Homo sapiens: one gene and its partner. The protein of the gene in region 1 purifies or fractionates together with the protein of each later gene. This does not show direct contact. Each region holds a gene or a part of one and is shown in the gene's direction. Other genes may lie near its edges.

The links.
Region 2: the proteins of BLTP3B (region 1) and BTK purify together in Homo sapiens (co-immunoprecipitation; one large-scale study listed by IntAct). This does not show direct contact.

Annotation. Positions count from the first base shown.
Region 1 is NC_000012.12:100,087,375-100,090,874, reverse strand, and holds part of BLTP3B (bridge-like lipid transfer protein family member 3B), read left to right. Parts: intron 1-1,779; coding exon 1,780-1,960; intron 1,961-3,500. UniProt on the Homo sapiens protein: Tube-forming lipid transport protein which mediates the transfer of lipids between membranes at organelle contact sites. Required for retrograde traffic of vesicle clusters in the early endocytic pathway to the Golgi complex.
Region 2 is NC_000023.11:101,358,692-101,362,191, reverse strand, and holds part of BTK (tyrosine-protein kinase BTK), read left to right. Parts: coding exon 1-19; intron 20-1,436; coding exon 1,437-1,624; intron 1,625-2,041; coding exon 2,042-2,104; intron 2,105-2,844; coding exon 2,845-2,899; intron 2,900-3,495; coding exon 3,496-3,500. UniProt on the Homo sapiens protein: Non-receptor tyrosine kinase indispensable for B lymphocyte development, differentiation and signaling. Binding of antigen to the B-cell antigen receptor (BCR) triggers signaling that ultimately leads to B-cell activation.

The DNA of each region.
Region 1 (3,500 bases):
AGAAAACATAATGAAAGAAGTACCGGAGAGTATTTTAAATAGCACCATCATAGACATAAATACAGTCTTGTTATAGCTTTGAAAATGGGAAAAGCAGGAGAAAAAGTGTTTGATATCAGTTTAACAATTAATTAATAAAAAGTTTTCTGGAGTCTATAGTATTTAACGTTTTACAGCTATATTTCACTTTGTTTCTTTACTTACCTTGGGCTGCAATCATTTTCATGAAGAGATTCTCATTTACTAAGTATACTTTGCAGTTCTTTTACAGTATGATCATAGTTCTTCATAGATGTAATATGTGTAAATATATATACATGCAAAATACATATACTTTGATTTTCTTTAATTATCTTTAGTTAATAACTTGTTCTAAATTTGAACATTGTTAATTTTTAAAGTGGAAAATTTGGTCTTATAATTATTATAAAAATTCATCTACAGTTTTGTGGCTCATATGTCAGATAATCTTACATTATAGTTATGTATACAAAATAATTTTAGGCTATTAGAGGTTCATATTTATTTTTATATATCAACAGGGTTCTATACTATTTCTCTTCAGGGAGAAAAATATTTGAACTCACAACCTATTTATAAATCCTGTCTCCTTTCTGGCTTCTTTAGTTATTCAAGTTCAAAGGACATACCACATCTTTTAGGAGAGGCACCAGAGCACTTAGAGTACTAAATAATATCACAGGGGCTTCTACAAAGATGTGCTTTATTTCTATAGGATATCATATTAGTCCCTTTTCACGCTGCTGATAAAGACATACCCGAGACAGGGCAATCTACTTACAGTTCCATGTGGCTGGGGAAGCCTCGTAATCGTGGTGAAAGGCAAGGAGGATCAAGTCCCATTTTACATGGATGGCAGCAGTCAAAGAAACAATGAGGAAGCTGCAAAAGCAGAAACCCCTGATAAACCATCAGATCTCGTGAGACTTATTTACTACCACCAGAACAGTATGGGGGAAGCCACCCCCATGATTGAATTATCTCCCACCAGGTCTCTCCCACAACACGTGGGAATTGTGGGACTACCATTCAAGATGAGATTTGGGTGGGGACACAGGGCCAAACCATATCAGATATATAACAGTGTATACAGGGCCCACATTTGTTTTGTTTTTAATATATATAATATTCAAATAAACTGCCTTTAAGAGTTAACTACATTTTCTAAAACAAGGGCTATAAATATGTTAAATATAACTTCAGATATTTACTGAGATATATTGGGTTCATATTTGATTTGTGTATAGTTTTACAGTTTTTTTGTTTGTTTTTTTGTTTTTGTTTTTGTTTTTTTGAGATGGAGTCTCGCTCTGTTACCCAGGCTGGAGTGCAGTGGCACGGTCTCAGCTCACTGCAGCCTCTGTCTCCCGGGTTCAAGTGATTCTCCTGCCTCAGCCTCCCAAGTAGCTGGGATTACAGGCATGCGGCACCACGCCCAGCTAATTTTTTATATTTTTAGTAGAAATGGGGTTTCAGCATGTTAGCGAGGCTGGTCTTGAACTCCTGACCTCAGATGATTCGCCTGCCTCGGCCTCCCAAAGTGTTGTGATTACAGGCATGAGCCTAGTTTTACCGTTTTTAAATTTTAGTTTTATTCTTAGGTAATTCAGAAAATATTTTAGGGAAAATATATTATTGATGAAAAATAAGATGTACTATGGTTATTTTTCATGACTTTCGACTGAAAATACTTAGATTTTTGTGTGAAATTTCCAGTATTTAAATTGGCAGTGATAAGGCAGTTTCGAATCTTTTTAGAGCTCTACAGTAGTCGCATCTGCCCAGCAAGTGAAGACAACGCAAACTTCAAATGCTCCTGATGTAAATGATGCAATTGTGAAACTATTCAATGATTTTGATGTTAAGGAAACCTCCCATCATTTAGTGATTTCTCATCTAGATCTACACATATGTGATGACATTCATGCTAAAGAAAAAGGTAAAATAACTTGCTTATTTCAAACTATTTTGGTTTTTCTAGAATTGACTACAAAACTGGATTGTTTATTAAATCTGTTGTGTAGGATGTCCTGTAAGATAATTTGTCATAATTGTGTTCATATGAATATATAGATGAAAGGCACAACTGGAAGCATATATTGGTATGAAATTTTATTTTGCTTTAGCAGTACTTAAGCTTAATTATTTGTTAGCTATCAATGCTAACAATAAAATTAGCTTTAAAAAAATCAGACTGAATAGATGATCCTCTAGGAGGATGATGAAATATTAGACTCGCCTTTGAATTAACTTTTTGATAATGTTGAAATTGTCTCCAAATTAAATTTTAGTCCATACTTAATTCATAATTATTTGTAGATGTGTTTTCAGCATTGCAGTTTTTCTACCTATTTTGAATAGAAGCACAACTGTGCAACTATTTAACATATTTTATGGCCACCTCTCTTCCCATCCTTCCAAAATTTGATTAGGAAGCAAAATTCCAGTTAGGAATTTTCTTTTAGTTTTTGTCCCTGTTATTTTTCCTTATTTAGTAGATGTAGTTCTGTAATCTAGGCGCTGGGCGTTTTTGTTTCTCTGCTGGAGAGCATCCCTGGCCCAGAAGTGTTGGGGTTGAGTTCAGCAGGTAGGCCTACCTTAAGGACTATAATTCTCAAACTTTGGTGAGCATTAGAATCAGGCTGAAGACCTTTAAACAATAGAGTTATCTGATCTCTGTGCCTCAGATCTGAATCAGGATCTATATCTACAAAAATTTTTGCCATGTGTTTTTAAGCTGAGAAAGTGAATATTGAGACCCTGGATACTTAGCAGTAGAAGTTACCCTGCCTTCATTAGACAAGGCAGCCTAAAAGATTCCAGCCTAAAAGGTTGGAGGGGCAAAGGTGAGGAAGATTCGGGGTTTGTGGAGGGATTTGTTATCTTTTGTTCTGACTACCATTGTGTCATTTGACTTATAGTTGGCATCTTTTACTTTAGAGATTTGAAAGGAAAATCCAAAAAAGTTAGAACAAACCAAACTAAGAAAATGAGGTGGTCAAGATTAAGTAGTAAGAATGAGAATGGAGAAAGTGTTTTCTAAGGCCTTACATTCCTCACTATTCCCTGATAGAATAAATTGAATGATTTTATTTAGGAAGAAAACCTTTTCACCAAAATATCTCCTTAATAGTACAGGTCTGTAATCACTATTGTGAAATCCAAAAGGCTCTGAAATATTATAAGTTTGTGAAAAACTCATTTGGTGGCAAAACCTGACTTATGCCAATACTTTTTTTTATTCTTTGCCTGCTTCCTATAAATATTTATGTTTTGCTGCAGAATTGCTATTTTTATTAGTGCTGCCTCAGAACCTGCTGAGAGTGTTGCATGGTATATCCTGTATATACCGTATCATATTACTGTCGTGAAATCTAAACATTTCTGAATTCTGAAACATTTGGCTTTCCAAAGGTTTTACGTAAGGGATTGTAGACCTGTGCTGAAAATTCTACTAGTTGAGATAAATTGGATTTTAC
Region 2 (3,500 bases), on another chromosome or scaffold:
AACGCCTGAGGAGGACCAGGTATACAGGGAAACTGGGTGCTGCCACTGCTTAAATGGAAACTTATAGTCAAGCCCTAAGAACACACTAGAGTCTTAGAATTACCCTGGGACTTGGCAGTGTTAATTGGTATTCTTGCTAAGATGGGGGATTTGTTCTTCTAATTAGGATTTCCTCCTCGATGGAAAGATAGAAGGCTCTCAGCAACCATGTAATCCAATCACCTGTTTAGAACAAAACCTGATTTTTTTAATGTAAAGTTTTTGTTGTTGTTTTGTTTTTGCTTTTGTTTTTGTTTTGAGACGGAGTCTCGCTCTGTCGCCCAGGTTCGAGTGTAATGGCATGATCTCGGCTCACTGCAACCTCCGCCTCCCAGATTCAAGTGATTCTCCTGTCTCAGCCTCCTGAGTAGCTGGGATTACAGGCATGCACCACCACGCCCAGCTAATTTTTGTATTTTTAGTAGAGATGGGGGTGTCACCATGTTGTTCAGGCTGGTCTCGAACCCGCCTCGGCCTCCTAAAGTGCTGGGATTACAGGCGTGAGCCACCGTGCCCAGCTGGAAAGTATTTTCAAACATACAGTAAAGTTAGAAGAATTTAACACTTAATACCAACATACTCAACACTTAGCACTAACACCACCTATCACTAACACTTCAGAAGTTTTTTTTTTTTTTTTGGTTCCTTCTTGAGGGCTAGAAAGCCCTTTCTCACATATTGTAAGTAAGTAGAGCAGGTATTATTATACTCATTTTACAAAGAAGGAAACCAAGGTTCTGAGCCACTTAGTAGATTCACGTACAAGTTTAGTGCCAAGCCGGTTTCCTGACCTTAGCTATAAATGGTTTTTGTCTAGTGAGCTTTAAAAATAGTAATGTTTGGGTCCCATTCCTGAGAGTTTGATTTTGATGTAATTGGTCTGTGAGGAAACTGACTAGGTATTGGAATTGGTTTTTTGTTTTTTGTGGGTTTTTTTTTGAGACAGTCTCACTCTGTCACCCAGGCTGGAGTGCAGTGGCGTGGTCTTGGCTCACTACAACCTCCGCCTCCTGGGGTCAAGTTATTCTCCTGCCTCAGCCTCCTGAGTAGCTGGGGCTATATGCACACACTACCATGCCCAGCTGATTTTTGCATTTTTAGTAGAGATGGGGTTTCGTCACGTTGGCCAGGCTGGTCTCGAACTCCTGGCCTCAACTGATCCGCCCGCCTTGGCCTCCGAAAGTACATTGGAATTTAAAAGTTCCATACATGGTCTTTATATGTGTGCAAGGCTGAGAACTCCTGCACTGGTGCTTAAAAATGGTTGTTGAATGACTGCTGAGTAATATTTTAGTATGCCTGATTTGGGTGTCTTGAGTAAGCCAGAGAGTTGGGAGAGAAGAGAAGAGTGCTTGGTATCTTGACAAACCCTCCTACCTTTTCTCCTAACTACATAGATCTTGAAAAAGCCACTACCGCCTGAGCCAGCAGCAGCACCAGTCTCCACAAGTGAGCTGAAAAAGGTTGTGGCCCTTTATGATTACATGCCAATGAATGCAAATGATCTACAGCTGCGGAAGGGTGATGAATATTTTATCTTGGAGGAAAGCAACTTACCATGGTGGAGAGCACGAGATAAAAATGGGTGAGTCCACACCAGCCCTTCCTGAGCCTGGTGCCTGCCCACTCCCTACACGCAAAAAGTGCTGCGGCATAATTCCCGTGATCAGCATCCTCATCAGAGACTGTTCTTCCCACACCAGACTGAACATGCTCTCCCTCCAAGTACTTCCCAGCGTGCAGCTCCCTATACATGGCCTCTGCCACATCTCTGAGCCTCTGTTGTTGGGCACATATAACCAATGCAACATGTGCATAAGCTCTGCACCTCACTGGCTCACTGCCTAACCATGCATCAGAGACATGATTGTCTTTGAGGGAGGTGCATGATACATATACCTCCATTTGAGATTTGTTCTGAGCTCAGGGACGTGGGCATATGAATCTGTCTCCTGGAGGCTGGGGAGGTGCTGGATGAACTGCCACATTGTTTCCTTCACAGGCAGGAAGGCTACATTCCTAGTAACTATGTCACTGAAGCAGAAGACTCCATAGAAATGTATGAGTAAGTATGTTTATGTCAGTCCACAATCTTCCAGGAGGAACTCTCTCTCTCTATATATATATATATTTATTTATTTATATATATTTTATATATATTTATATATATATATAACACACACAAGTGTATATATGTATACATATGTATACATACACTGGTGTATATATAGGTATATTATGTATACATACACAAGTGTGTATATATATATATACACTTTTTTCTACTTTCAACATATTTTTTATTTCAAGATATATATTAAAATTAGTACCATCTGAATCAAATGATGCCACCACCTCAAATTAGTGTATCTGTCTTACCTTTACCCCCCAAACACCCTCCATTTATGAGAGCTGGAGAGGTCACCATGCCCTCAAATCCAGAAGAATCACACTCAAAGAAAAAGGAGTTGACGACCTGATGAAAGAATTAAAATGTCAAACTGCTACTGTTGTCCTTTCCTCCCTAATCATGGAAGTGGATTGTTCTCAAGTGCCCTAGTCCCTGATCTCTTCCCTGCAACTCCCTGCTGCTTGCCTTTGCCTGCTACTCTCCATTTCCATGAATCTTCAATGCCAACCTGGGTTTGGGAAAGGGATACAGTGTGCTATGCACATGACAGATGCTCAGTAAATAGGGTTTGAGTGAGTTGACTGAATCACTGACATGGACAAGCCCTGGAGGGTGCTGTAACCTCCAATCTGCTTATGACCAGGAGCCACTCAAGCAGCACTCTCCCTTCACAGGTGGTATTCCAAACACATGACTCGGAGTCAGGCTGAGCAACTGCTAAAGCAAGAGGTAAGTGTGGAACCACTAGCACACAGCATTCTCCTTGCATAAGTGAGGATCTTGAACTGAGGGCCTGTTCTGCCCCCTACCTTTGGGCAAGGCAGTGTCAAAGCTGCCATCGTCTGGGATCCCAATTACACCATTTTTTTTGTTTTTGTTTTTCTGAGACGGACTCTCGGTCTGTCACCCAGGCTGGAGTGCAGTGGCGTGATCTGGGCTCACTGCAACCTCCGCCTTCTGGGTTCAAGTAATTCTCCTACCTCAGCCTCCCAAGTAGCTGGGATTACAGGCACATGCCACCACGCCCGACTAATTTTTGTATTTTTAGCAGAGACGGGGTTTCACCATGTTGGCCAGGCTGGTCTCGAACTCCTGACCTCAGGTGATCCGCCCACCTCGGCCTCCCAAAATGCTGGGATTACAGGCATGAGCCACCATGCCCGGCCTGCACCTTTTAATATTAAAAGCAATGAGGCTGTAGCTCAAGCGTGGAACTTGGCAGTAAAATCAGGGGTTGTTCTATTTTCTCTCTCAAGTTTGGGCAGGTGGGATGCAGGTGTGAGCACCACTTCCTCCTACAGACAGCTTCTTTTTCGTTGTTTCAGGGGAA